Homo sapiens: one gene and its partners. The protein of the gene in region 1 purifies or fractionates together with the protein of each later gene. This does not show direct contact. Each region holds a gene or a part of one and is shown on either strand. Other genes may lie near its edges.

What was found.
Region 2: the proteins of CARNMT1 (region 1) and NUP42 purify together in Homo sapiens (affinity purification with mass spectrometry; 4 studies listed by BioGRID and IntAct, with this or other methods). This does not show direct contact.
Region 3: the proteins of CARNMT1 (region 1) and MKRN2 purify together in Homo sapiens (affinity purification with mass spectrometry; 4 studies listed by BioGRID and IntAct, with this or other methods). This does not show direct contact.
Region 4: the proteins of CARNMT1 (region 1) and GLE1 purify together in Homo sapiens (affinity purification with mass spectrometry; 4 studies listed by BioGRID and IntAct, with this or other methods). This does not show direct contact.

Annotation. Positions count from the first base shown.
Region 1 is NC_000009.12:75,010,857-75,018,652, reverse strand, and holds part of CARNMT1 (carnosine N-methyltransferase), read left to right. Parts: intron 1-1,204; coding exon 1,205-1,400; intron 1,401-2,221; coding exon 2,222-2,385; intron 2,386-7,796.
Region 2 is NC_000007.14:23,191,913-23,199,708, reverse strand, and holds part of NUP42 (nucleoporin NUP42), read right to left. Parts: intron 3,871-7,796; coding exon 3,794-3,870; intron 3,030-3,793; coding exon 2,943-3,029; intron 2,537-2,942; coding exon of another isoform or gene 2,462-2,536; intron 252-2,461; coding exon 167-251; intron 1-166.
Region 3 is NC_000003.12:12,552,627-12,560,392, reverse strand, and holds the start of MKRN2 (E3 ubiquitin-protein ligase makorin-2), read right to left. Parts: upstream 3,307-7,766; 5' UTR 3,243-3,306; coding exon 3,217-3,242; intron 1-3,216. UniProt on the Homo sapiens protein: E3 ubiquitin ligase catalyzing the covalent attachment of ubiquitin moieties onto substrate proteins.
Region 4 is NC_000009.12:128,500,294-128,507,918, forward strand, and holds the start of GLE1 (mRNA export factor GLE1), read left to right. Parts: upstream 1-4,425; 5' UTR 4,426-4,512; coding exon 4,513-4,611; exon of another isoform or gene 4,612-5,680; intron 5,681-6,922; exon of another isoform or gene 6,923-6,939; coding exon of another isoform or gene 6,940-7,047; intron 7,048-7,625. UniProt on the Homo sapiens protein: Required for the export of mRNAs containing poly(A) tails from the nucleus into the cytoplasm. May be involved in the terminal step of the mRNA transport through the nuclear pore complex (NPC).

The DNA of each region.
Region 1 (7,796 bases):
ATTGTTCATGTTTCATGGGGCCCATTTGCAAGAGTTTCTAGGATATAATTGCTAGGTCATAAGGCAAGTACCATGCTAAGTTGTACTAGGTAATGCTCTAAATTTAATTTTCCAAAGTGGTTGCGCTGATGTATGCACTTACCATTAGTGTGTAAATGTCCTAATTACACCATATTTTCACCAATCACCAAAATTTGATATAGTCAGGATTTTAAATTTTGGCCATCTTGTCAATATAAAAATGATATACTGTGAGTATATATTTAACTTTAAAAAATGATGTTCTTATGGCCAGGCATGGTGGCTCATGTCTGTAATCCCAGTACTTTGGGCGACCAGGGCAGGCAGATTGCTTGAGCCCCGGAGTTTGAGACCAGCCTGGGCAACATGATGAAACCCATCTCTACAAAAAAATACAAAAATATTAGCCAAGTGTGGTGGCACATGACTGTAGTCCCAGTTACTTGGGAGGCTGAGGTGGGAGGATGGCTTGAACCTGGGAGACAGAGGTTGCAGTGAGCCGAGACTGTGCCACTGCATTCCAGCCTGGGCGACAAGAGCGAAAATCCCTCTCAAAAATAATAATAATAAGTAAATATAAGTAAAAATTATGTTCTATTTTCTGGTTTTATGAATAAGTAGTCCCCAAAGTGACCTTTGGGTTCGTTTTTGGAATGCAAATTGTGGGTATTGTTAAGTAAAACACTATAGAATTTTAATTTTTTATTTGCTTAGTAATTTGTAGTATATAAGATCTTCTATGATATTTAAAAAAAATCAACCTGGTTAGCTTTTAGTTAATTTCAGGACATATTTTGTGTGTATTATAATTTCATAGCAGTATTTATTTTGCTACTTAAAGATGGAAAAATCTAAAGCTGGTTTTGCTGAAAATTTTAAGTTTAAAACACAAAAATAAATTAATTGTACATTAATCTTCTTTTTCCTCTTCTAATTGGTGCATATGTTTACTTTTACTAGTGATAAACCATTTGTATTTTGGTTGCTTAGAGAAGGACTTGTAATAAAGTAAAAACATTTACAACTTTATAAGTTAATGCCTTTTTAAAGCCAAGAGATTGTAAATGATAGGACAGTATCCAGCATAATAAGGAAATAATTGTACAGAAAGACAACCTTAAAGTAAGATTGGCCTCTGGTGAGAATTCTTTTGTGAATTTAAAAAACACCTTTTATGTTTTAGCACCAGTATGCATGAGCGGGTGAACCGAACAGAAAGACAGTTTCGATCACTTCCAGCTAACCAACAGAAACTACTTCCTCAGTTTCTTCTTCACTTGGACAAGATCCGGAAATGCATTGATCATAATCAAGAAATACTACTGACCATTGTGAATGATTGCATACATATGTTTGAAAATAAAGAATATGGAGAAGATGTATGTGAAAGTTTGTTCTATTTCTGTTTATTTTAGGGTCAACCTCTGTATTTTGAGGTCTTTTATTTTCTGGATTTCATTTTTATAATCTGGCACAGGCTATTTGCTCTACTCAGAAAGTTTTAACTTAAATGTTCAGTCATTTGATTAGGCTTAATAGCCAGAGACTGGATCTGTTCACTTGTTTTCCTTTTTTAAGTACTAATATAACTGTTGAGATTTTGATGCATTTTGACATAATGTTCTGTTTTGGAATACAGGGTTAGTGACTTAAATTTTTAAAAGCAACTTTACTAGCTAGAAATTAATTTCCCTTGCTTAACTCATATTTTTTCAGTGTCTTGTATCTATTGCTGTTCATCTTTTATTGTAAGAAATTGTTTTCACTTATAAATCTCAAGGGACTGGCAGTACATAGAAACTGAAGTCCTCTTTTTGTATCCACAGGATGGATACAGTTGGGCCACTCCAGTGTGAGCCTCTCCATGCTGCCCCATCAATGACCTGGAGGGACTTTCTTCCCTCTCTTAGAGAGGATGTTCGGTCTCCATAGCAGCTCAGTTTGGTCCTCTCCTGAGTAAAGACTGCTTAATTATATGGTGGTTTTATGATTAATGGACCTTAATCTTTTGAGGGTAGCAGTGAGACCACCAAACTCTTTTCATTTAGGATCTCAAGCTGCACTTGAACCCCAGTTGAGGTGAGAGGCTAGTGATTTATCCACTAAACCACCTATATAGCCCCTTAGTAGCATGTCTATTTAACCATAATATAAGTGGATTACTCTCTCAGAAGCTAATTGATGTCTGTTTTTTAAACAGGGGAATGGAAAGATTATGCCAGCATCTACATTTGACATGGATAAGTTAAAATCCACGCTGAAACAGTTTGTGAGAGACTGGAGTGAAACTGGGAAAGCAGAAAGGGATGCCTGTTACCAGCCAATCATTAAAGAAATTTTAAAAAATTTTCCAAAAGAGAGATGGTAAATAGTACCTCATTTTTAACCAAGTTTTTAAAGTGTATGAACACTTGAGTTTCTTGATAAAATGTTTCACAGTCTCGCTTCATTGTTATAGTTGCTGTGTGCCTGTATGTTTTACATGTGTAAGTGTTAACATTTGTTATTGGATGCTCTGTGTGAGATTACAGTTGTTATTTTGAATAATTTTTATGCTGGTGCTTAGGGGAAATTACTTAGAAATTAAATAATAAGGTTAGGTCGAAAATTATCAATGATGTGTATCTTTTTATAATTTGCTTTATGGCAAAGCAAAAAAACTAAACTTTTAATTCCCCTCATTATGACATAGTTGTAAACAAGTGAGGGATCTGTACCTCTGAGCAAGCAGAGATTCTTAACTTTTTTATGCCTTGGAACCATTGTTCAGTCTGAAGCCCATGGTCTGCTTTTCAGAATAATTTTTTTTTTATTTTATTTATTTATTTATTTATTTATTTATTTTTTTGAGACAGTCTCACTCTCTTGACCAGGCTGGAGTGCAGTGGTGTGGTCTTGGTTCACTGCGACCTCTGCCTCCTGGGTTCAAGTGATTCTCATGCCTCAGACTCCGAAGTAGCTGGGACTGCAGGCTTACACCACCACGCCTGGCTAATTTTTGTGTTTTTGGTAGAGACATGGGCTCACCATGTTGGCCAGGCTGGTCTCGAACTCCTGACCTCAAGTGATCCGCCTGTGTCTTCCTCCCAAAGTGCTGGGATTACAGGTGTGAGCTACCTCACCTGGCCCAGAATAACAATTTTAAGTGAATAAATTTAAGTGCATATGATTACAAAGAAAACTGATTTTGAAATACAGTTATCAAAATATTTAAAAAGTAAATTTGTGATGCATGTTTTTTTAAATCATATATCACTTTAAATACAATTTAGCTGCAAGTATAATTATGAAATGTATTATGAAAATGCTGAATGGGATATACACTGTTTTGAGAACTTCAGCTAATGTGAAGTGAAAATATGTGTGATTTCTCTTCGTGATAAAGTCATAGGTATTGCTAAAACTATTGTTTGTTGCCTGCATCCGTAATTGAGGGGAAAAAATCAGTTTCTGAAATTAAAATGTAATTTTTTCCCATTCCCTTCAGAGACTCAGTGAATTCTATCCACAGACCTCTTGATGGATAGAATTTAATCCACCTAACCTCTGTCCCAGGTTAGGAACCCCTGATTTAGGGGTATATATTTAACGAAAGCTATTGGATGGAATTCAGTCTTATTTAAAGATCTTTTAGAGAGGCTCCTTTTCCTCCTCTCCTTTGCCTCCGTATTGATTGACAACTTTACGTTTGAGTATTTGCTTTCAGAAATTTCAATACATATGTGTCTCTTCTCTCTCTTTATTTTTTGTTAGGACATTTTATTTTATTGATTATTATTTATTTATTTATTATTTTTATTTTTCACTCTGTTGCCCAGGCTGGGGTGCAGTGGCGCTGCTTACTGCAACCTCCGCCTCCTGGGCTCAAGTGATTCTTGTTCCTCAGCCTCCCGAGTAGCTGGGATTACAGACACCTACCACTATGCCTGGCTATTTTAACTATTTTGAAATAACTTTAAAATTACAGATAAATTGCATGAATTATATGGAGACCTCCTGAATTCACTTATACTTTTTACTTGAATTCACCAGTTTTTAACATTTTGCCACATTTGCTTTTATTGTTTCCTCTTCCGTCTTCCCTCCCTCCCTCTTTCCCTTGCATTATGTATGTGTGTGTCTGAAACCATTGAGAAAATTTAACCCTGAATACTGTTAGGTAATTTACAGTCTATATTCAAGTTTCATAATTTACTGTGGTTCATACTGATAACTCTTAATTCCAGTCCCAACTCTATAGGGTTATCCTTGGTTTTCCCTCTTTTCTGTATCTGTTTACCTCACTTCCAACAACATCAATACGTTTACTTATTCGCCCAGTTGTCTACAGTACACACAGAATGGTTTCAGAATTGCTTCATCCATACCTCTGTGAAAAAGAAACCTACTAAAAGGAGTTCGGGATTTGCTAATAGTTATTTTTCCCTTAGACTAAGGTTGTATAGTGAATTTATTCTTTGCAGTTTACCCAAATTAGCTCTCCCTTTAATCTTCAGCCTCCTGGTGTTTTATTCCCTCCCTTTATTCTATACCCCATTTGGATAATCAGTATCATTGGCATCTTGTTTATTCATCCTTTTATTCTTGGGGTTTTTTTTTTTTTTTTTTTTTAAGTAAGTGGATGTGGTTTTTTTTTTTTTCTCTCTCTCTCTCTTTTTTTTGACACAAAGTGTTGCTCTGTCATCCAGGCTGTAGTGCAGTGGTGTTATCGTAGCTCACTGTAGCCTTAAACTCCTGGGCTCAAGTACTCCTCCCACCTCAGCCTCCCAGCTAATTTTTTAGTATTTTTTGTAGAGGCAGGGGTCTTGCTATGTTGAACAGGCTGGTCTTGAACTCCCGGCCTCAAGTGATCCTCCTGCCTCTGCCTCCCAAAATATTGGGATTACAGGCATAAACCACTGTGCCTGGCCTTTTTGTTTTTCTTTATAATTACCCTCTTTGGTCATCCACAAAAGATAATATAGCATACATGTATTCTGTACCTTGCTTTTTTCACTTAGTGTATCCTGGAAATAGCTATGCTGTCATTTCACAGAGATCTTCAGTCATTTTTTTTTTTCCCAGCTGAAGATTACTCTGTTATTTGGATGTATCATAGTTTATTCAACCAACTTTCTCCTACGTTAGGTTATTTAGGTAGTTGGCAGTATCTAGCAATTATACATAATGCTAAAATTAATAACTTTATGCATATGTATTTTTATATTATTGGAGGTATAACTTTAATTTTTATTTAAAAATAACTTTATTTGATAATCTTTTAAAAAATCCATAATATAATTTCAGAAGAAATTTCTCCTGATTTCCCCTTACCACATTTTAGAATATAAATAATGCAGAAGGATCTGTTTATTTTTCTTTGCAGCAGTTCCTGACCAGTCCATGGTGAGAAATATCAGTTGGCACTTAATTGCACCATAATAAATTATACCCAGTAAGGATGATTTTTCAGGTCTCCGTGCATGGGTTATGGAGATTTTCCATCATGCATCTTTTTCTGCTGCAATTATAGGGCCTGTATATACTTATGAGAATTGGAGCTAATATCAAAGACAAAAAATTGTGGGGCCCTTTCCCCGACAGTCCACCAAGTTTTGAGGAAAAGAAGTATCAGTTGAAATAGCTCTGAAGAATTTATCTTCCTGGTTCTGATAAGTAGATCTCATGGTCTCTGATTTAACAGTACATATAGATAAGATTTTTTTTTTTTTTTTGAGACGGAGTCTTGCTCAGTCGCCCAGGCTGGAGTGCAGTGGCACGATCTCGGCTCACTGCAACCTCCGCCTCCCGGGTTCACGCCATTCTGCTGCCTCAGCCTCCCGAGTAGCTAGGACTACAGACGCCCGCCACGACGCCTGGCTAATTTTTTTTTTTATATTTTTAGTAGAGACGGGGTAGATAAGATTTTTTAAAAACACAGTGTAACAACTTGAACTTTGCCGTGCAAACTCTGTAACCCACTGTCAACATAGTTCTGTATTTGGGCATGGATCATTCTGAAGAAAAATGGAGCTCAAATTTTTAAAAAATTCTTAAAACTTGAAGACCTGTCCAGGTGTGGTGGCTCACGCCTGTAATCCCAGCACTTAGGCTGAGCCGGATGGATCACTTGAGGTCAAGAGTTCGAGATCAGCCTGGCTAACATGGCGAAACCCCGTCTCTACTAAAAATACAAAAATTAGCTGGGCATGGTGGTGCACACCTGTAATTCTAGCTACTCAGGAGTCTGAGGCAGGAGAATTGTTTGAACCTGGGAGGCAGAGGTTGCAGTGAGTCAAGATCATGCCACTGAACTCCAGCCTGGCCAGTAGAGCAAGGCTATCTCAAAGAAAAAAAAAAAAAAAAAACCAAAAACTTGAAGACCCTCAGTACCTGGGCTCTTAACTGACCCAACATATTAATGTACATTCAGAGCTCAGATATAAGTGATATTCAGTCACATCTCAAATGGTCAAGGATATATAGTGTTTGGCATCAAGACCTTGAAGCTCACATTTGCTAGCAGAAAAATCTCAGTTCCTTTCATCGGGTATGTGTGCAGGAGAGTATCTTTAATTTAAATTCTTAGAAGTGGGATTGCTGCATAACACATTGATTTCAGTTGCTATGGGTCAGGAGTCTGGGCTTGGCTTAACTGGTTCTTCTGTGTAGGAGCTTACAAGGCAGCAATCCACGTGTCTGCCGGGCTGTGTTTTCACCTGGAGACTTGACTGGGGAAGAATCTGTCACTCATATTTCATTTTGTTTAATTGCAGTTGTAGTAGTGAGGCAGAATTGTTTTCACTGTGGCTGTAGGACTGAGGGTCTTAGCTGCTCTCTGTTTGTCAGTTGGAAGCCTGCCTCATCTCCTAGAGGCAACCCACAGTTCCTTGTCTTTCCCAAAAGGACCACTTCATCAAGCCAGCAAGGAGGGTGTCTAGATCAAGCAAGCTGTCAACCGTCTTACAGTGTTGAACAGTCACAGAGCTGGGTGTCAAGGCTCATGTCTATAATCCCAGTACTTTGAGAGACTGAGATGGGAGAATCACTTGAGGCCAGGAATTCAAGACCAACTTGGGCAATGTAGTGAGACCTCATCTCTACTAAAAATTTGAATATTAGGTGAGGTGGCATGCACTTGTATAGTCCTGGCTACTCTGGAGGTGGATGCCTGGCAAGGGGATCATTTGAGCCCAGGAATTCAAAGTTGCAGTGATAAGATTACTGCATTCCAGCCTGGGCAACAGAGCAAGACCCTGTCTCAATAATAATAATAATAATGACAATCACAGGAGGGACATCTCATCACCTTTGCCATATTCTGTTGGGTAGAAACAAGACATGGGGACCAGGAGGTAGGGAGCGTGGGAGCACCACTACAGGGTCTGTCTGCCACAGTCATTACTATGTTCTTCTATAAGGGTTGCACTGTTTTGTCTGTCTACTGGCAGTGTATCAAAGTGCCTGTTTATGCACAGCCCTGACAAATACTGTAGTTTTAAGCCTTTGACCTTTTGCCAACCTGATGGGTGGGAAATTATATGTTGGCATAGTCTTAATTTGCATTTCTCTTATGATGAGTGAAACTGAACATCTTCATATGTTAAAGGGTCATGTTACATGTTTTTTTTTTTGAGAATTATATATTTATGTCTTTTGCCCTCAGTTTTTTATTGAGGTGAATTGCATATAACAAAAGTAATCATTTTAAATAATTCAGGGACATTCAGTACTTCACAGTATTGTACATCTGTCACCACTGTGTAGATCCAAAACATTTCATCAACCCAGAATAA
Region 2 (7,796 bases), on another chromosome or scaffold:
CCTCCCTTTCACAAATGTCTAATGAGTCAAATGCTTTGAGGCTCTATGATGGAAGGTTGTAGAATTTACGAAGGTAATTTAAAATGGCGATTCAGGCTTGTAATTTGAAACCTATAAAATCTAATTTTTCTAAATCAGTGAAGTCCTGCATTACTTTATCACTTACCTGGCGACATAAATGTTGCTGCTTGACTGCTGCCAAATCCAAATGCAGGTGCTGCTTGATTTACTCCATCCTTTACATCAGAGAGCTGAAAAAAAAAAGTGTGCAAATAATAAAGTGCTTGATGAATAGTGCTCCAGTATCTTTTCTATACACTTTATGGACAAATTCAAGTTTTTAAAATGTGCATTAAAGGCTGGGTGTGGTGGCTCACACCTGTAATCCTAGCACTTTGGGAGGCTGAGGAGGGTGAAGGGCTTGAGCCTATGAGTCTGGGACCAGCCTCAGCAACACAGCGAGACCCCCATCTCTATAAAAAATTAGCCAGTGGTCCCAGCTATTTGGGAGCCTGAGGTGGGAGGATCACTTGAGCCTGGGAAAGCCTGGATGACAAAGTAAGACTCTGACTCAAAAAAAGAAAAGAGAAGAAAAAAGTGCATTAAAAAAGGCAAAGTTAAATGCTTAACATGGAAAATGCCCATAATATGATGTTGAAAAGGATAAGACATAATACTGTATAAACAGTATAATCACAACTAGTAATATGAATATGCATAAAAAATGTACATTAGTAAGTTAACAGTGATTATCTCTGGCTGATAAATTACAGGTGATTTAAATTTTATTTATGCTTTTTTATACTTTCTAAATTTCTACAATGAGCAGATATTATAATCAGAAAAATATTTTTAAATTTTTTTCAGTGTCTATAAGGGTAGATCTGCATTTATCAAGAAATCTAGATATTAGGTAAAAAGGACCTTTATAGAATACCCAGTCTAATACTCGAAGTAGATCCACTATTATATAATTAAAAGCTTATGACTAAAAATCCATTAAACATTTCCCATTCCCTGAAAGTACTTTATGTTCTTGCTGTTCTGTGCTCTAGAAATGTCTTTCATCTCTGCTTACTGAAATCTTAATCCTACTTTCAAGGAACTTTGTATTTGCTCCTTCCTTTCAAGAAGACTTTCTTAATCATCCAAAGCAAACATAAGCGATTTCTTTCATTTGGAAGCCTCAAAAGCATTCTTTGGCCGGTGTGGTGGCTCACGCCTGTAATCCCAGCACTTTGGGAGGCTGAGGCGGGCGGATCATGAGGTCAGAAGATCGAGACCATCCTGGCTAACATGGTGAAATCCCGTCTCTACTAAAAATACAAAAAAGCTGGGCGTGGTGGTGGGTGCCTGTAGTCCCAGCTATTCGGGAGACTGAGGCAGGAGAATGGCGTGAACCCGGGAGGCGGAGCTTGCAGTGAGCTGAGATGGCACCACTGCACTCCAGCCTGGGTGACAGAGTGAGACTCTGCCTCAAAAAAAAAAAAAAAAAAAAAAAAAGAATGCTTTTGTTTTTGAGACTGCAACCTCTCCTGGGTTCAAGTGATTCTCCTGCCTCAGCCTCCTGAGTAGTTAGGATTACAGGCGTGTGCCACCATGCCTGGCTAATTTTTGTATTTTTAGTAGAGACCGGGTTTCACCATGTTGGTCAGGCTGGTCTTAAACTCCTGACCTTGTGATCCGCCTGCCTCAGCCTCCCGAAGTGCTGGGATTACAGGCGTGAGCCACTGCACCCAGCCCTCAAAAGCATTCTTGCTCCTGGTCCCTGGCAACCACTCTGTCTGCTTTCTATCACTACAAATGAGACTTGTCTTTTCCAGAGTTTCATACAAATGGAATCACATGGTCTACACTATTTTTTTTTTTTTGGTCTGGTTTCTCTCCCTCAGTGTAATATTCATTAACAGGCAGATGATAAACAAATTATATCCATACAATGGGTTACCATTCAGTATAAAGAAGGCATGAACTCCTGATACATGTTAAGTCAGCTATGGGTGGGTTGTCCCACATTCTAACCTATGGAAGGGGCCCTGGGCAGTTAGCAAGGAGCAGGGACCTTCCAGCCCTGAGGGAAGTTCCACAGTTCTTTGGACTCAGTTATCCTTTCTCCATCAGCTCTCATCCATGGTGATGGTGGGCCACCTCTCACACAAGGACAGACTACTTCCAAGAGGTCCCACTAAATTCAAATAGCATTACAAGAACTAAAAGATGAAAGAAATTAGCTTGCACAAGAGTCTAGTTATTCAGGAAGCACATATTTAAGAAAGGGGTGGGGTGTTGGGACTGTCAACCATTCACTAAGTGTAGGGAGACATTACTCTCATATCCTTATACAGAGTAGAAACCATCTGAGAAATTGGAAATATTAAAATTATAAATGTGAATATCTTATTTTAAAATAAAATTCTTAAGAACTTTTTAATGGGTGTAGAAACATCATAACTTTATTTACAAAGATAATGAACTTGCCACAGTCGGGACCATAGATCTTTGGAGACAGGTGGGTATATATCTTCCAAAGGCATTTCTGTTTAAGACAAGGAACATACTGTGTTCTTCAGTCGCAAAACGATACATTACATTCTAAATGTGCATTCATATAACTGTTCAAAGTAATTTCTTTTTACATACAGATAACCTTAAATACTTAAACTTATGTAATAGTTTGCCATTTTCAAAACTAGCACTACCAAAGTTAAAAACTTTACCCTAAAAAGCTTTTAAAAAGCATAACTATTTCTGCTTTTCTGACCAAGGAACACAGAGAAAACTATTTCAAGACCCTGACTCTTAAGTGATGCTATTTTGGGAATGTGTGTATCATAATTCTTGATAGAAAATTTTTGTTTTGCTTTCCAAATCTAAAGTAAAATATCCTCTGCAAAAAAGCAATAGGTAAGACACTTCCCTCAAGAAAACTCTCCCATACTCACCAAAGCTACTTTAGTTGATATATTTAGACTTTTCAGTTCATTTACCCTGTTCCTCCATTGATTTATTAAACGTTGGACAGAATTTAGCTGAAAACGGAAGACAGAAAAATAACAGTTCAATATTGTATGTTTAAGTTAGTTTCTTCAATAAAAACTTCACATACTTCTTTGCCAAAATCACAAAAGGTTTATGTAACAGTTTTATGGCCCATGACTTGCAAAATTTGCATTGACTTGGCCTATTTGTCAAAGATATGCCAGCTCCAGTTCCCTCTCCCGTTCAACTCCTTGTATCATCTGGTTAGTATCACAAGTACCTGGCAGCACGTAGTTAGTTATATTTGGATGGGCGGTGAATACATGTACTAGTTGAAATGCATGATCATGACTGTAGAAACAGAAAAATACAGCATTTAAACTGCTTCCTTCAGGTACTCAACTTATTCTAGTCAAGATTTTTAATTTTTTTTGATATTTGATATATGAGGATGTTAATCTGTATTACAGACTGTATCTTATTTAACTTTGTTTTTCTAGCATTCATCACTGGATTGGTACCTAACAGATGTTCAATAAATATCTGTCAAATGATAAAAGGGTTTCATTTCTGGGATTGACTGTTGGGTAATTTATAATAAAAATAGTAATATTCCTAATTATTAAAGTAAAAATATATTATCATTTTAATAACCAACCAAATTCAATGAAAATAATATAGAAAAGAAAAATAGCCTACTCCTGAAAAAAGATCATAGACCTCATCGGTTTTGCCAAAACACAAGCCACGATAAAGAAAGCAGTAATTAAGAGCTCATCTGTTATTGCAGTAGATTAATAGGAAACAAACTTACATAACTCTGTAAGTTATTGCTGGTTAAGAAGTTATGGTATTCAAGCCTCAATTCCTCTGGTGAAATGTCTGTAAAACCTGAAGTGAGGAATCAATCGGAATCTTTAAAATAAATGCCAATAATTTTGATAGTAAAGCTAGAGGTGCTAAACAAGAAAATATCTAATGTTGATTAGAAAATTTTCATAACCATGAGGAAGAAACTTAAAGCCTACACTCTACTTAATGTTTAATAAAGTGTAAAATTACAGTAAAATATAGTTGGTTATTCTGATCTTTAAATGGGGAAGATTTTCTAAAGATAAGTGGCGTAGAATGAACAACAAACACAGGAGAAAGATTTGACTACATTTATATTCAAACTTTTATTTTAAAAATTCTGCCAGAAACTATACTAAGCAAAATTACAAGGCAAATGGTACACTAGGAAAATTGCAATTTTAACATATATGACAAGAGAAGAACTAATGCCCTAATGTACAAATAGCTCTTACAAATAAATGAGAAAAGTAAATGAATTTGGGCAAAGATAATGAACAGGCAATTCACACACAAAAAAAATCAAATAGTAAATAAATGAAATAAAGTTAAATGCAACTTAAAATAGAGATAAAATGCTTTACTTATCAGACTGGCAGAAATTTTAAAAGCTGGTATTTACTGTTGTTCCAAATGTGGTGAAATGTATCATTTCCTAAATTACCGTTAAGGGAATTAAAATGGTACAAGTTTTCTGGGAGGGATAATTGTTAATAAGCATCACAAGCCTGAAAAACATTCATATCCTGTGACTTATAATACAATTTATAGGATTTAACCTTGGGAAATAGTTATATATGTAAACAAAGGTTGCTATGTATAAGGGTGTTCATTCTAATATTTTTAGTACCAGAGACAAACTGAAAGCAAAAATTAGAATATAAAACTAGGGCCGGGCACGGTGGCTCACGCCTGTAGTTGCAGCACTTTGGGAGGCTGAGGCGGATGGATCACGAGGTCAGGAAATTGAGACCATCCTGGCTAACATGGTGAAACCCCCTCTCTACTAAAAATACAAAAAATTAGCCGGGTGTGGTGGCATGAGCCTGTAATCCCAGCTACTCGGGAGGCTGAGGCAGGAGAATTGCTTGAACTTGGGAGGCAGAGGTTGCAGTGAGCCAAGACTGCGCCACTGCACTCCAGCCTGGGCAACAAAGCGAGACTCCGTCTCAAAACAAAAACAAAAACAAAAGCAAAAACAAAAAAAACTGGATTACAGCCGGGCGCGGTGGCTCACGCCTGTAGTCCCAGCACTTTGGGAGACCAAGGCCGGTGGATCACCTGAGGCCAGAAGTTCAAGACCAGCCGGGCCAACACGGCGAAACCCTGTTTCTACTAAAAATACCAAAATTAGCTCGGCGTGGTGGCATATGCCTATAATCCGAGCTACTCGGGAGACTGAGACTGGAGAATCGCTTGAACCCGGAAGGCCAGCCGAGGCTGTAGTGAGCTGAGATGGCGCCACTGCACTCCAGCCTGGGCAACAAAGAGCGAAACTCTGTCTCAAAAAAACAAAACAAAACAAAAAACAAAGAAAAACTAGATTATGATCCTAATCATATATATGTATACGTATATATGTATAGGTGAGAGGTGACAGCTTGCTGGCAGCCCTCACATTCCTCACTCGCTCTGGGTACCTCCTCTACCTGGGCTCCCACTTTGGTGGCACTTGAGGAGACCTTCAGCCCACCGCTGCACTGTGGGAGCCCCTTTCTGGGCTGGCCAAGGCCTGAGCTGGCTCCCTCAGCTTGCAGGGAGGTGTGGAGGGAGAGGCGCGAGTGGCAACCAGAGCTACCCAGGGCCCTTGCTGGCCAGCTGGAGTTCCGAGTGGGCGTGGGCTTGGTGGGCCCCACACTCAGAGCTGCCGGCTGGCCCTGCCGGGCAATGAGAAGCTTAGCACCCGGGCCAGCGGCTGCGGAGGGTGTGCTGGGTCCTCAGCAGTGCCGGCCCACCGGCGCTGCGCTGGATTTCTTGCCGGGTCTTAGCTGCCTCCCTGCGGGGCAGGGCTCGGGACCTGCAGCCCGCCATGCCTGAGCCTCCCCCTCACCTCCGTGCGCTCCTGAGCAGCCTGAGCCTCCACGAGGAGCGCCACCCCCTGCTCCACCGGCACCCAGTCCCATCGACCACCCAAGGGCTGAGGAGTGTGGGCACACACCGCGGGACTGGCGGGTAGCTCCACCTGTGGCCCTGGTGTGGAATCCACTGGGTGAGGCCAGCTGGGCTCCTGAGTCTGGTGGGGACTTGGAGAACCTTTATGTCTAGCTAGGGGATTGTAAATACACCAATCAGCACTCTGTGTCTAGCTCAAGGTTTGTAAACACACCAATCAGCACCCTGTGTGTAGGTCAGGGTTTGTAAATACACCAATCAACACTGTATCTAGCTACTCTGGTTGGGACTTGGAGAACCTTTGTGTCCACACTCTGTATCTAGCTAATCTAGTGGGGACTTGGAGAACCTTTGTGTCTAGCTCAGGGATTGTAAACGCACCAATCAGCACCCTGTCAAAACAGACCACTTGGCTCTCTGTAAAATGAACCAATCAGCACGATGTGGGTGGGGCCAGATAAGAGAATAAAAGCAGGCTGCCCCAGCCAGCAGTGGCAACCCGCTCAGCTCCTCTTCCACACTGTGGAAGCTTCGTTCTTTTGCTGTTTGCAATAAATCTTGCTGTTGCTCACTCTTTGGGTCCACATTGCCTTTATGAGCTGTAACACTCACCGCGAAGGTCTTCAGCCTCACTCCTGAAGCCAGCGAGACCACGAACCCACTGGGAGGAACAAACAACTCCAGACGGGCCGCCTTAAGAGCCGTAACACTCACCGCGAAGGTCCACAGCTTCACTCCTGAGCCAGCGAGACCACGGACCCCACCAGAAGGAATAAACTCCGAACACATCTGAACATCAGAAGGAACAAACTCCGGACACGATGTCTTTAAGAACTGTAACACTCACCGCGAGGGTCCGTGGCTTCATTCTTGAAGTCAGTGAGACCAAGAACCCACCAATTCCGGACACATAGGTATACATATATACACACATAGAACAACTTATACATCCCTGTACAAGTGGACCCTTGCAGTTCTGTTCAAAGGTCAACTGTACACACAGCTGTACAGGGTCCACTTGTACAGGGGCCACTTGTACAGGGATTTTCTTCCGCCTCTGCCACTCCTGAGACAGCAAGACCACACCCACCTATCCCTCTGCTACTCAACATAAAGACAATAAGGATGAAGACTTTTATGATGATCCACTTCCACTATGTGAATGGTCAATATATTTTCTTATCCTTATGATTTTCTTTTTCTTTTTTTTTTTTTTTTTGAGATGAAGTCTTGCTCTGTTGCCCAGGCTGGAGTGCAGTGGCATCATCTCGGCTTACTGCAACCTCGGCCTCCTGGGTTCAGGCAATTCTCCTGCCTCAGCCTCCACAGTAGTTGGGATTACAGGCATGCACCACCAAGCCCGGCTAATTTTTTTTGTATTTTTAGTAGAGATGGGGTTTCACCACATTGGCCAGGTTGGTCTCGAACTCCTGACCTTGTGATCCACCCGCCTCAGCCTCCCAAAGTGCCGAGATTACAGGCGTGAGCCACCGCGCCTGATCCGTTATGATTTTCTTAACATTTTCTTTTCTCTTACAGTACGTTATTAGTAGTTAAGCTTTTGGGGAGTCAAAGCTTATACGTGGATTTTTGACTGCACAGAGGATCAGTGCCGCTAAACTTTATGTTGTTCAAGGGTCAATTGTATACATAAACAAGAAATATGTTTGTGTGTGTATATGTTTCGAAAGAAATATACTAAAATGTAGTAGTTACCTCTGTGATATCAGGTTATTTTTATTTTATTTATATATTTCTGTACTTTCCAAGTTTTCTAAAGCAAAAGCTGTAACTTGTTTTTTATTTTTGAGACACAGTCTCATTCCTGTCACCCAGGCTGGAGTGCAGTGGCT
Region 3 (7,766 bases), on another chromosome or scaffold:
GGTAGGCACTGTGGCAGGCTTGCAATAAATGTACTGATTAGAGGCGGGAATGAAATGAAGTACAGTGTGGTGGTGAAGACACTGAAGTCAGACTGCTTGCTATGTGAGCTTAAGCAAGTTATTTAAGTCACTGAGCCTCAGTTTCCCCATCTGTAATGTGATTATAATAACTGCACTTACTTCATAGACTGCTATGATAGACTACTGGGACATTTAACTGAGAAAATGCATGTAAGTGCTCATCCTAATACAAAATAAATGGTTTGTTGCTATTATTTAATTTTTAAACAGCCCTGCCGGTTAGGCATTACCATCCTCATTTCACAGATGAGGCAGTTGTTGCACAGGTGGTACCAGGATTAGAATCCAGAACTGCCCAACCCTGGGGCTCAAACTCTTCCTACCACCTGCCAGCTGAAAAGATCCCCCATGTTTTGTGACTTTCAAAGAATCAAAAGCCCCCTAGGTTTGACTATCTTAGGACAATGAAATCCTGTGTCTTCTAATAGTGATTATGAGATGCAGGGAAGCTCTATCACAAGAGGAGAAGGTGAAATAAACTGGTTACTAAGCTATAATAAGGGCCTCCCCCAGGGCTCCGAAAACAGACTGGAAGACAGGGAGATGGTTGTGGGGGAGGGGAATCAGCAAAAAGGCACAGATTGAGATTCTGGATAGAGCGGCATGTCAAGGAATCAGAAGAGCTGACTGACAGCATAACTGTACGAGCAGTCATTTTTACCACTCCAGGCAATAAAAACATGGAGTGTCTTTGTCATTAGGTTTGAGACTCCTAGCATTTGATAAGCAACTCTTGGAGATACATAATATCTAACAGATTGGAAGCAAAACTGACATTATTCTGCTGTCATTCAAAATAAACATGTACATCACATCCCACAGTCAGGAAAACAAACCTAAAACTTTGTGACCTGAGATTAAAAAAAACAAAAAAACAAACAAAACCCACAAAAAACCGCACACGCTGCTTAGATCTGGTCCCCAAAATAAATCATACCTTGAACATTTCCTATAAATTATCAATGTCTAGAGACAAGGCTTTTGTTAATGAGATAATAAAGTGAGAAAAGCTTTTGGTAGATAAGCTGGTAGAAAAGTTGATGGTAGATAAACACACTAATGTAAACTTGGTACTCTTGGTCATATTGGTTTTTTCCCACTTAAAACACCTGTTATGTTTTTTATTTGGCAAGGCAGTCATCGGGAGCCCTGACTCCTTTACACCCTTTTGTGAGTAAACTTCTTTGCAGTTTTACATATCCTTGTATGAGTTTCCTTTCATGGGAACACATTAAAAGCTTTGATAAGTCCTGCAATAAATAAATTTTAATTTAGCATTTCAAAACTTATCTGGAGGCCCTACAGTCTATGAGGGCATGAACTTTGATTTCACACCTCTGTCACTTGGAAGCTAAATGACCTTAGGCAAGTCGCTTCAATGCTGAGGCTCAGTTTTACGATCTGTGGAAGAGCGCTGGTTGCTGGATTATACACTACAGTACCTAAGAGCCGCAGCACATTGTAAGTCCCCAACAAACATGACTAAACACTTAAACAGAAGTGATCCCTTCTCAACATTCCAACCCAATCTTCATTTATATGGAGCAACATCCTACAGAACACCCCTGTTTGGGAAACAGAATTAAAGCTTTCAAGTCAAGCTATCTCCAGGTATACAAGGAAAAAACCAAGATGATCCTGATTTAGGTCCTTGTGCCTCTACTAAGGTGTAAAATTTTAGGCAAATTTCAAGTCTTTCTGAGCATAAGATTCCTTATTTGTAAAATAAGATACTACAGAGTTGAGATTCAATTATAAAGCATTATTACATAAATGTGTACTGTTTTGTGGACACTTCTTAGATGAGGTACGGGAATAAATGGTAGAATTAAACCATAGAGCGAGGGGAGGAATACAGAGGTTTTTCTAGGAGGCTACAAGCTGCTTTACAGTGCACAATGACCTAGGAATACTTCCTCCAGCAGGAGAAACTTTATACAAATAAAAATACGTAAACACACACAAACCCGTCTTCACAAAACACCTTCTAGTACAAATAACCTAGTAAAAGTCTTTTTATAGACACTAGGTGCAAATTTCTGACAACAGCTTAACATAAGCCACCTGGGCCTTGGATAAATTGAACAGTAAATGTACACTAATGCTAACAGAAAACTTACTACACAGTCACGTCTCAACTATTCATACCAATGAAGAGAAGTAACAACATAGAAAATAAACTGTTTATTACACAAACTCTATAACTGTTTTTAAGCAATGTTTCCCATAAAAATTATTAAATGAAATTTGCATTTTCCAAGCATACAATTCAATTTGCGTTTTCCAAACATACAATTCAATAGGACTAGACTCCATTACCAGTAAGCCACAAGCTGACCAAGCAATGAGGGTGTTACACAACCACACTATTCTATTTCATAGGAGCAGTCGTAGTGTAGCTATCTGGCTATTTTCTACAATAAACCATCCATTACCGTCGCATTTCTCCTCGTAAATGGCTCTCTCAGTAAGATAAATGAGTGTCAACGTCTTTCGGTCTCAGTTTCCTGCACTGTAAAATGGTAATAATAACTACTAAGTTGTCTTACTGTGAAGTCTGATGATAATGAATATAAAGGACTTGGAAATATGCAGGGCGCTTCGCCGATATTCACAATATGCTACCTGTCGTTATTTTCCACACAACAACTTTTACTTGTTAACTCTCTGCAAGTTTAGATTGCATCTGGATTCTCCAAACTTTGAGGCCCTCATAATCGATTAACAAATTACTCCTATGTGGTATCCCCATTTGTAACCGTCCTCTCGGCGTCCCTTTACTCAACTTCAAATCTTTTCCAGTTAAAGCGTAAGCCCCAGAGCCTTCCCGACAGCGCCCCGGCATCCTGCACGGCCCTGGCTAGGACGTCCTTCCTCCCAGCCCACAGGGGCCACGCTTCAAACTCGGGGCGTAGCCCCCCGCGCTGGCCTCGCCCAGCGTCTCGGCCACGCATCCCCCGGATCCCCGGCTGTGGCGGCAGCGCTCGCTCTGCCTCGCAAAGCCCCGCCGCGAACAGCCGAGTAACTTTCCGAGTCCCGCTCTAGCCTCAGGTTCCCGGACCACAGCACTGGCGCGCACCGGCCCCCCTGCGGCCTGGGGGAGCGGCCCGAAGCTCCTGGCTCCAGCGCACTGACCTGCAAGTGATCTGCTTGGTGCTCATGGTGGCTGGGCTGAGGGACCGTCGTCGTGCCGCCGCCTCTCGCAGCCGCTGCCGCCTCGGCCTTGGCCCTGGCCCGGCCCATCCCGCGTAGCCGCGTCACGCCGGCGCACGCCGGCGCACGCCGCCCCTCCGGTGTGGCACCTTTGTAGCGCCGGCGGGTAACCTAGCCGTCGTCACAATTGGTTCCGCACCGGGGATCGGGCCGGCTGTCCCGGCATCCCTGCTCTCGGTGTCCCGCACTTCCAAGCCTCCGGGGCGGAGCCTGGCTGGCATCTTAGTCCTGCCAGTCTTATCCCGATGCCTACTGTTAGTGCCTGCGATTCTGCCCCGATCGCCAAGAGTATTCCTTAGGGATCTCCCGCCTCCTTCGAGGCACTTCACCACTCCTGGGGAAACTCCAGCCTCTCCTCTTAATCCCGGATGCCCCTATCCATTCATACTCGCACTCACTGGGCACCCTTCTCAGGCCCTGCCTCAACTGTTCCCGCCGGACCTCGCCTCCCACTTAAGGAAATTCCTTAGCTCTCTCCCAACTGCTCTTTCCCCAAATCTCTACTTCCACAAGTTTTAGTCTTCATTTTCTTTCCTGCCAGTCTTGTGCTGCTCGTCTTCCATTTCCTATGGTGGAAACCCCAAAAGTTATTTTTGACACTTCCCTCTAGCTCTCTATACCCTGCAGATTCTGCTCCCACACCTCTGTCCAATGCGTCCTCTTCTGCCCCCTTTCCACCGTCCCTTCTACCTAGCACCATGCGATACCTTTTTTTTTAATTATTATTATTTTATTTTTTATTTTTTTGAGACGGAGTTTCTCTCTTGTTGCCCAGGCTGGAGTGCAGTGGGGCGATCTCGGCTCACTGCAACCTCCGCCTCCCGGGTTCAAGCGATTCTCCTGCCTCTCAGCCTTCCACGTAGCTGGAATTACAGGCGTGCACGCCTGGCCAGCCATGCGATAGCCTTTTAACTGGTCTTCTGGCTTCCGTTCCTGGTAAAAATCTATTTTTAAAACATAAATCGGATCATGTCATTCACCTTTTAATCTTACAATGGTTTCTCATTGCTTAAAAACTCGAGATACATAACATGCACAATATAAGTGCACCAAACACATTCTATGAATTTTTGCACATGCATACACTCATGAAACTACCACCCAGATCAAAATAAAGAATTTTTTGTTTTGTTTTGAGGCAGGGTCTTGCTCTGTCGCCCAGGCTGGAGTGCAGTGGCGCCATCATAGTTCAAGCAGTCCTCTGCCTTAACCTCCCCAGCAGCTGGGAATACAGGTGCGCGACACCATGCTCGACTAAACTTCAAAATGCTGGAGTAAGGAGAGGTTGAGCCGGAAGGATCCTTTGAGCATAGTTCACTGCAGTCGAGGCTGCAGGGGGTGGGTGGGGGCTGGATATTATCGACACCCCAGAAGGGCTTCCTTATGGTCCTTCCCAGGCAATACTTTACAAAGGTCATTGCTTGGGTTCATCTCTATCACTATAAATTAGTTTAACTGTTCTTGACTTTCATATAAATAATAATTCAGTACCTACGCTTTTGTCTGCCTTCTTTTGACCAACATTTTATCTGTGAGATCTTTCCATGTTATGTATGTATAGCTGTATGTTCTTTTTTTACTTTGCTATAAAAATATTGAGTCTTCCAATGAATGAGCATGGTATATACTTCCAATTATTTAGAACTTTTGAAATTTTTCTCAGGAATTTGGAAGTATACTGGAAATTTTGTTTTCAGTGTCTTGAATATTGCATTTTAACTCATAACACATTTGATCCATGCAATTCATGCTCATAAAAATTACACGTCTTTTTTTTTTTTTTTTTTGAGACGGAGTCTTGCTCTGTCACCCAGGCTGGAGTGCAGTGGCATGCTCTTGGCTCACTGCAACCTCCACCTCCCGTGTTCAAGCGATTCTCCTGTCTCAGCCTCCGGAGTAGCTGGGATTATACAGGCGCACGCTGCCACGCCCAGCTGATTTTTTGTGTTTTAGTAGCGACGGGGTTTCACCCTGTTGCCCAGGCTGGTCTCGAACTTCTGAGCTCAGGCAATCCACCCGCCTCGGCCTCCCAAAGTGCTGGGATTACGGGCGAGAGCCACCGCGCCCAGCCCATGCCACTTATTTTTAAAATTCAGCTTATCTCATTCTTTATGGAATACATTCACGATCTGAACGTTATTATGTTCAAATATTTTAAAAGCGTAAAGTGAAAAGTCTCAGTCTCCTGTCAATTTAGTTCCCGCCTCTTCAAAACAAAAAGCAGAAACATTTTTTAAAACCTCAAAACCTGGCCACTGTTATCAAATTTGTATACATCTTTCCAGAATTTCTTTAAATATACACAAGTAAATACATATATATTATTTTCTCCTTTTTGTAGAAAAGATAACATAACGTACTGTTCTGCACAGCGTACATAATCAGTGGAGATTTTTCCATATCAGTACATAGAGCCTCTTCCTCCTTTCGTAGAACTGTATAGTATTCCGTTGTACGACTATGCCATAAGTTATTTCATCAGCCTTGTACTGCTGGTGCCCTTTAGGGTGTCTGTGCAAATAAAACACTGGATCGGGCACATGTTCTCAGGATCTCCTGAGGTCTGTGTCATGGGCAATATATATATATATTTTTATATTTCATATATATTTCATATATTTCATATATATTTATGAAAAAATAATACAACACTGGATCAACGACAGCCAGTGTGCACTTCCACAAGCTGTACCCAACAGCTTGGTTCCTGCCACTGTCATGGTACTTAGCACTTAGACTTTTCCCGAAGGATGCAAGCAGTCTCCACTTGGGGTTCTTCCGGCGTTATCTGGCGCTGGGCACTAAACACCAAGTCCTGCCCCACCCGGGACGTGGAACTCACTTTCCTCACCCCCAGGGAACCCGCGCTGGCAGAGAAGGCAGGGCCACTCGCTCCTGCCCGTAGCAGGGGCGCGTAAAACTGCGTCTGCTTGCTAACCACCAGCTCCCGTTCTCGCCCCTTAGGAAAAGCAACTTTGCTACCAAACACTCGGGAGAAAAAGGCTATCAGATAGAAGCGGGTGAAGAAGCTGAGAAAACAGAAGAGAAGGGTGGCTGCCAGCTCGGGACTCAAAATGGCCATCTGGGCGTAGAGACACAGAGACCCTTTGCGCAGACGTGCGCCGAGGGTCTTGCAAAGCTTTCGTTTTCTTTGTGTGCCGACCTGCCCCTAGAAGCGGTTTTCGATGCTATTTTAAATGATATTCCTAAAATTTCCGAATTGCTTGTTGCTTATATATAGAAATACACTGGATCTTTGTATACTGACTTGGGATTCAGCTCCATGCTAAATTTTGAATTAATTCTAATGGTTTATTTGTAGTTAGTTATCGATTTTCTATACACAATCACGCCATCAGCAAATAATGACAGTTTTGCTTCCTTTTCATCTTTGTATCTTTTATTTCTTTTCCTTGCCTTATTGCATGCACTGTCTACAGCCTTCAGAACAATGTTAAAGAGAAGTAGTAATAGTGTACATCTTATTTTGTTCCTGGATTCAATAAAAATATTTAATATTTTACTTTAAAATTATTTAATATTTTAATTAAAATGTTAGCCCTAGATTTTTTTAGGCTATCCATTGCCAAATTAAGAAAGTTTCTTTCTAGTTTTATTAGCATTTTTACCATGAACACATCTTGACTTTTATCACTTTTTTTTTTGCATGTATTGAGAAACCTATATTGTTTTTCCCTTTTATACTGGTAATGTATTGAATTATACTGATTGATTTTTAATGTTAACCCTACCCAATTGCTCAGGATAAACCCCACATGGCCATGATATATTTTCTATAAATCATCTATTTGTTAAAATTGTGTTTAGAATTTTTGCATCCTTGTGTATGAGAGATATTAGTCTGTAGTGTTCCTTTCTTATAATGTCCATGCCAGGTGCTGGTATCTGGGATATGCTGGTCTCATAAAATGAGTTTGGAAGTCTTTCTTTTCTATCCTCTGGAAAAGTCTGTGTAATATGGGTATTAATTTTTCCCTTAAACATCTGGAAGAATTTACCATGGAAGCCATCTCAGCCTGCAGTTTACTGTGCAGGAAGATTTTTTTTTTTTTTTTTTTTTTGGAGACCGGGTCTCACTTTGTCACCCAGGCTGGAGTGCCGTGGTGTGATCTTGGCTCACTGCAACCTCCACCTCCTGGTTTCAGCCCCTCAAGTAGCTGGGGCTACAGGTGTGCGCCAGGCATGCTCCACCACTCCTGGCCAATTTTTGTATTTTTTGTAGACAGGAGATCTCACTATGTTGCCCAGGCTGGTTTCAAACTCCTGAGCTCAAGAAATTTGCTCACCTTGGCCTCCCAAAGTGCTAGGATTACAGGCATGAGCCACCATGCCCAGCCTGCAGGATGATTTTTAATTAAAGATTTAAATGTGGGGCATGGTGGCTCACACCTGTAATCCTAGCACTTTGGGAGGCCCAGGTGAGCAAATCACCTGAGGTCAGGAGTTCAAGA
Region 4 (7,625 bases), about 53 Mb from region 1:
AGGAACTCCAGAGTTGCCAAGCCATAGCTGAGAAGCCTGGTGGTTTTCCTCTCCCAGTGAAAAAATGGGTTCAGGGTCTTGTCCTTAGCTACTAGCTCTAGAAAAGTCCCAAAAGCAGCAGAAGGTGAAGCAGGAAGCACTTGGTTTTCTCCTTCCTGATATAGTCACCTGTTGGAAGTGTTAAAATTTCCTCGACAGGCCTTAAATTTACTACTACATTAGGGTACCACATTTTAACTTACCATGACTTTGCTCCTTCCTTTCCTGAGAAAATATTTCCACTGGATTTTTTCCACCAGTCCCCTTACAGCCCTCATTGTTTTAGGAATCTCTCTCAGGTTTTTTCTGACCTAAACCAGCAGGAAGTCGTCCTGGGCTGTAAGCACCATCACTTGCTTTTTTTTTTTTTCTGATTTCACAAGTGTGGTGTTTTCCCAAGGCTCCCTTCCCAAGCTCAGTGCAAACCTCTCACTCCCAAGTTTCTTTGAGGCCACTTGCCCCCAAGCACTTCACAATAGACCCTCGAGGGCTTGTGTCCATTTGGCCTTTTACAAGTGTAATGCCAATTTCATTGATTTTTGTTTCTTTTGGCCTGATTTGTATCTCTGGAATGCATTTATTCTTGAAATATTTGTGTGATTTTACAAAAAGCTTTTGTAATCAGTTATTTAAGGCTCCATTTGATGATTTCCTTTACCCAACCAGTCCTCATCCCTCCTCTAAAAAATGATTAAGTAAAATGCTGCAGGACAGCCAGTAGACATTTTTAAAGTACTTGGTGCCTGAAACATCAGGCTTCTCATTTCATTTTAGCTCAGGTTGGTGCTTTCACATTGTAATCAATGAACTGTCAGGAGGGAACAAACTGTAAGAAGGATTGCTTGGTGTTTTAGGGTAGATCACTTTAGCTATTAGGAAGAGGATGGGGTAGTGTACAGTATATATTTTTAAAATGTGAATTGGTTTCTGAATAAGAATCTGGGCCATTTTTGTTCACCATTTTTGTTCGTACTGTGCTAACCTCTGCCCTTCTGATTCTAGCTAGTATTGGCCTGGGTGGTCCAGTCTTCTCACCTCTCAGCCACTCTGACTCAACTCTAGAGAATTTCTTCTCTGTTCTTTTTTCTTCTGGAGACAGGTCTCTGTCACCCACACTGAGTGCAATGGCGGGAACATGGCTCACTGCAGCCTTGACTTCCCTAGCTCAAGCAATCCTCCCACCTCAGCCTCCACAGTAGCTGAGAGCACAAGTGTATGCCACCATGCCCATCTAATTTTATTATTTTTTGTAGAGACAGATCTCACCACATTGCCCAGGTTGGTCTTGAATTCCTGGGCCCAAGTGAACCTCTCATTTTGGCCCCCCAGAGTGCTGGGATTACAGGGGTGAGCCACCACACCCAGCCTTCTCTGTGTTCTTGAATCCACCTAGGCATCTGGATTTCAAAGACCAGAAATCTCTTTTCTCTACCAAATTTTGAGGATATTTATAGTTTCCAGCTTTCAGTTTTTCCAATGAAGGTAATTCCAGCTACCACTGCCAAAAAAACTAAGCCCATTTTCATACTCTTAACGTAAATAGACAAGAACTTATAATAGGTGAAAGACCTTCCCGAGAAAGGACAATTGACAAACTTCCACCAGCATGTATATATATCTGTATAACTCATTATTATTTTTGCCAAACTAGAGAAAACCTCAGTGCAGGGCACTGCTATGTAACTCTGGTGTGAGCAACACCTCTCTTGGAGTCCCTTGCTGGGACTCTGGGGACTCTTCCAACAATTTTTCTTTTTAAAATATTTTTATTACAAGAAGTCCAGGGAATTTTTAAAAACTCAGAAAATGAAAATTGTTCACATTGCTCATACTCCAGAGAGAATTCTTCCTACCTCAAACTGAGATCTCACGAGGTGGTGGACAATGGAAGGGTCAGAAAGTCTGGGGTCCCAGTTAGAGCCGTCTCTGGACAATTGTGACTCATTCTATTTTTATTGAGATATAATTCACATAAAATTCACTCTTTTTATTTTTTTGAAACAGGGTCTCCCTCTGTCATCCAAGCTGGTGAGCAGTGGCACAATGATGGCTCACTACAGCCTCAGCCTCCTGGGTTTAAGCGATCTCCTGCCTCAGCCTTCTGAGTAGCTGGGAGCACAGGTGCATGCCACCATGCCTGGCTAATTTTTGGATTTTTTTTTTTTTTGGTAGAGGCAGGTCTCATCATGTTGTCCAGGTTGGTCTCAAACTCCTGGGCTCAAGCCATCCTCCTACCTTGGCCTCCCAAACTGCTGGGATTACAAGCATGAGCCACCATACCTGGCCTAGAATTCACCCTTTTAAAGTGTAAATATAGGCCAGGCGTGGTCACTCACACCTGTAATCCCAGCACTTTGGGAGGCCGAGGCGGGTGGATCACCTGAGGTCAGGAGTTCGAGACCAGCCTGGCCAACATGGTGAAACCCTGTCTCTACTAAAAATACAAAAATTAGCCGGGAGTGGTGGTGGACGCCTGTAGTCCCAGCTACTTGGTAGGTTGAGGCAGGAGAATCACTTGAACCCAGGAGGTGGAGGTTGCAGTGATCCAAGATCACGCCACTGCACTCCTGCCTGGGCAACACGGCGAGATTCTGTCTCGAAAAGATAAAGTGTATATATAATTCAATGGTTTGTAGTATATTCACCAAGTTGTGTAGCCATCACCATTATCTAATTCTAGACCTAGTTTTTTCTTTTTTCGAAATGGAGTCTCTCTCTGTCACCCAGGCTACAGTGCAGTGGCACCATCTCGGCTCACTGCAGCCTCTGCCTCCAGAGTTCAAGGGATCCTCCTGCATCAGCCTGTGGGGACTATAGGTGCATGGCACTTTGCCTGGCTAATTTTTGTATTTTTTGTAGAGACAGGGTTTTGCCATGTTGCCCAGGCTTGTCTGAAACTCCTGACCTCAGGTGATCTGCCCACCTTGGCCTTCCAAAGTGCTGGGATTACGGCACCCAGCCAACCAATTTCATCACTCCCAAAAAAGAAACGCCATACCCATTAGCAGTCACTCCCCATTCCCCTCCCCCAGCCCCTGGCAACTAGTCATAAAGTTTCTCTGGCTCTATAGATTTGTCTCTTCTGGATATTTCACATAAGTGGAATTGTCCAACATGTGGCCATTCATGACTGGCTTCTCTCAGCATAATGCTTTCAAGATTGATGTTGCAGCGTATCATCAGCACTTTATTTTTATGGCCCCATAACATTCCATTATATAGATGTGGTGTTTCCTCCTGCCAAACAGGGCTGGTTGGGATTCCAAAGAAGCACTATGGCCGGGCGCAGTGGCTCATGCCTGTAATCCCAACGCTTTGGGAGGTCGAGGTGGGTGGATCAACTGAGGTCAGGAGTTCGAGACCAGCCTGACCAACATGGTGAAACCCCGCCTCTGCTAAAAATACAAAATAGCTGGGCGTGGTGGCTGGCGCGTGTAGTCCCAGCTACACGGGGAGCTGAGGCAGGAGAATCGCTTGAACCCGGGAGGCGGAGGTTGCAGTGAGCCGAGATCGAGCCACTGTACTCCAGCCTGGGGGACAGAGCAAGACTCTGTCTCAAAAAAGCAGCATTAAACCCAAAACATTTATTAGGGAAGCTTACAGAGTGGGCTGCAGCAATTCTCGCGACAGACAGAGAGAAGCGGTGTTTCACCTAGGTACATCCCCAGCGAGGGGTCAGGGTATGAAGTTTATATGAGGGTTTATGGAATTTGGCTAAAAGCAGGGGTCAGTTTCAGCGTTTTGGGCAATAACCTAGATATCCTTAGTGCCTAGGGATATGCAAGGCCCGTGTTTGGTTGCAAGTCTGCAGGAAAAAACTTGCAGCTGGCTGGGTCACAGGGCGGTCAAGGCACTCTGATACTTGGTCAGTGCACAGAAAGCGGGGGAACTCGGGAACCGCGCACATAGTACTATATTTTATTTATCCATTCACCAATGGATGGACGTTTGGGTTGCTTTCACTTTTTGGCTATTATGAATAACACTGCTGTGAACATTCATGGACAAGTTTTTATATATACATAGGTTTCATTTCTTTGGCGTATTTTATATATATATATATATTTACCTAGGAGAATTGCTGGGTCAAATGGTAATTGTTTAACCTTTTGAGGAACTGCCAGACTGTCTTCCACAGCAGGTGCTTCATTTTACAGTCCCATGAGCAGTGTATGAGGGTTCCAGTTTCTGCACAGTCTCAAGGCACAGACAAATTTTCAGCAGCCCCGGGGATTGGGAGCGGTGGTTACCTCTGCGGAACGTGCCCCGACAGCCAAGCCCTGCGCGCAGGCGCACTGGTGGGAGGGCGGGAACGCGGGAGCGTCGCCGGAGGTGGGGCGTGCAGGCGTTAGGGGCGGGGCTGTGCTGCGCGCGCGTCCCGGAAGCAGAAGCCTGTGTGGCCTTCCCGGCGGCTGATTCGAGGGCTTGTTTGGTCAGAAGGGGGGCGTCAGAGAAGCTGCCCCTTAGCCAACCATGCCGTCTGAGGGTCGCTGCTGGGAGACCTTGAAGGCCCTACGCAGTTCCGACAAAGGTCGCCTTTGCTACTACCGCGACTGGCTGCTGCGGCGCGAGGTGAGCGGTGGCCCCGGAGGACGTAGGCCTTTCCGGCCCCTCGCGACCGAAACCTTCTCCCTAGCCGTTGGCACGTTCTGCTCCCGGGAACCCGTGCAGTCTAACAACCTGCATTTATTTCTTGACTTCTGTGTGTACATCCCTCTGTCCTGGGGTTTCTGTCCTCTTCAGCCTATTTTAGCGTTTCGGGGAGCTCCCCTGACTTCACAGGTGCCCCGCGCTCTGAAGGCTTCATTGCTACCCTCCGCCAGTTGGGCGCCTTCTCCGTTCTGCTGTTGTCAAAGCAATCTCGGCCCCAGGTTCAGTTAACTTACTGTATGTCTCATGTGCTGGGAGCTCTAGAGTTTGCGACGAACGATTGACACGACCTAATCCATTGCTACTAGTGAAATGACCAAATTTTTAGATTGATTTGGCAGACCTGGAAAGTGAATGGGGGCGTGGTCACCGTACCTAGCATTTGCAAAGCTCTGCGCGAGAAGTGGAGGGATGTGGAGAGTTAAGGCCGAGCTCCCATTCCCGAGTCGCTGCTAGTTAGCTACAGATAAGGCGTTGTCCTGCATCCTCAGACTTCTTGGGAAACAATCCTAAAGTATTTCCCTGTCTTTTATGTTGTTGACAGTTTTGAAAAATACAGACCTTACATTCTGTAGGTTGACTGCCAGCATATGTGCTTTCAAACCACCAGACCAAGGTTAAGCATTCTTGGCAGGAATACCACAGAAATGATGCCATGGCTTTCTCAGTAAGTCACATGAGGAGGCACACAGATGTCAACCCATCCCAACACTGGTGATGCTAATCTTGATCACCTGGTTACGTTATTATCTGCCTGGTCTCTCCGTTTAAAATTCGTCATTTTTCCCTTAGTAATTGTTGGGAAGTAATAATACCAGTATCCTTTTTTCTGGGCAAACCTTAATCCTCCATGGCTTTAGCATTCATTGATGTTTTCCACATGAATCGATACCTCTATGACGTTGCCAGATCCTGTTTCTTTATATCCGCTATTCCTTCTGCATTTGTTAGTTGGCATTCTACTGTAAGGAGGTGCTTTCTATTTTATTCAGTGAGTTGTAATCCATTACTTTTATTATTTATTTATTTTATTTTAAATGTCCCAGATTTTGTAAGCTTGTATCAAAATAATCACATGCAAGGCTAGGCGTGGTGGCTCAGGCCCGTAATCCCAGCACGTTGGGAGGCCGAGGGGGACGGATCACTTGAGGTCAAGAGTTCGCGACCAGCCTGGCCAACATGGTGAAACCGCATCTCTACTAAAAATACAAAATTAGCCGAGCATGGTGGTGCATGCCTGTAATCCCAGCTACTCGGGAGACTGAGGCATGAGAATTGCTTGAACCCTGGAAGCAGAGGTTGCAGTGAGCCGAGATTGTGCTGCTGCACTCAAGCCTGGGTGACAGAGTGAGACTGTGTCTCAAAAAAAAAAATGTAGCCTTGTAAATATGTACAACAATTATGTATTCATAAGAATTAAAAAGAAAAATGTCCCAGATTTGGCTACTGGGCACCTCATTAAGTTGGTTCCTGTGTTCCTGTGACATATTTCCATCTTTCATTGACATTTCTTTACTTTTTGACACAAAAAGATGTCCCAGGTGCAAGTTTCCCTGTCTTAATCCTGGAATCAGCTATTTCTCCAAAGAGGCTGACTCTTTTGAAGTGGAGGATGGTGCTGTATTGGCAAACCAAGATCTGGGAGTTGAGTGTGTTGAGATTCTTGATTGGGTACCATTGCTTCTAGGCCTTCTCAGTAGACAGAGCTAGGAAATAATACATATCTAAATATGTACACACATCACCACACACACATTTATGTACTGTCTATTTGTGTGTACATATATATTATAAAACCATGACTTCATACTGATAAATGCCACTTCCAACCCAGCACTTCACTTTTCTTTCTAATCTTACCCCATCCATGTTTGTAAATATGTTACCTAGCAGTGAGAAGTTTGGCTCCTGTTATTCTCAATATGTTTACTTATTTGCTCAATCAGTTTACTTTATCTCATTGTAGCAATCTCTGAACTACTCTAGTTTTTTCATTTATTTATTATATCATAGGTAATCAGTACTTATTTTCTCATACAAAGATGTTCCACGCTCATCTTATATTTTTCTGCCTCCAGTTCTGGAACTTACCTTTTCTGCAGAGACCCCTGGTTTCCTTTGATTTAAAATTATATTTACAAACCAAGATCTGGTACTAGATATGCTCATTATTACTACTAAGGGTGTATACATACATATCCATATCTATTTCTATTTTTTAAAATATTATTAGGCTGGTTGTGGTGACTCATGCCCATAATCCCAACACTTTGCGAGGCTGAGGCAGGACGAGTGCTTGAGGCCAGTTCAAGCTGGGAGCCAGGCTTGGTGTCTCACACCTGCAATCCCAGCACTTTGGTAAGTCAAGGTGGGCAGATCACTTGAGCCCAGAAGTTCGACACCAGCCTGGGCAATGTGGAGAAACCTCACCTCTACAAAAAATACAAAAAAATTAACCAGGTGTGGTGGTGCGTGCCTGTAGTCCCTGCTCCTTGAGAGGCTGAGGTGGGAGTATTACCTGAGCATGAAAAGTTGAGGCTGCAGTGAGCCGTGATCACGCCACTGCACTCCAGCCTGGGGAACAGAATGAGAGCCTGTCTCTCAAAAAAAAAAAAAAAAAAATAGTCGGGCGTGGTGGCTCACGCCTGTAATCCCAACACTTTGGGAGGCTGAGGTGGGTGGATCACCTGAGGTCAGGAGTTTGAGACCAGCCTGGCCAACATGGTGAAACCCTGTCTCTAGTAATAATACAAAAATTAGCCGGGTGTGGTGGTCGACACCTGTAATCCCAGCTGCTCGGGAGGCTGAAGCAGGAGAATTGCTTGAACCCGGGAGGTGGAGGTTGCAGTGAGCTGAGATCGTGCCACTGCACTCCAGCCTGGGTGACAGAGCAAGACTCCATCTCAAAAAAAAGGCTGGGCACACAGTGGCTCACG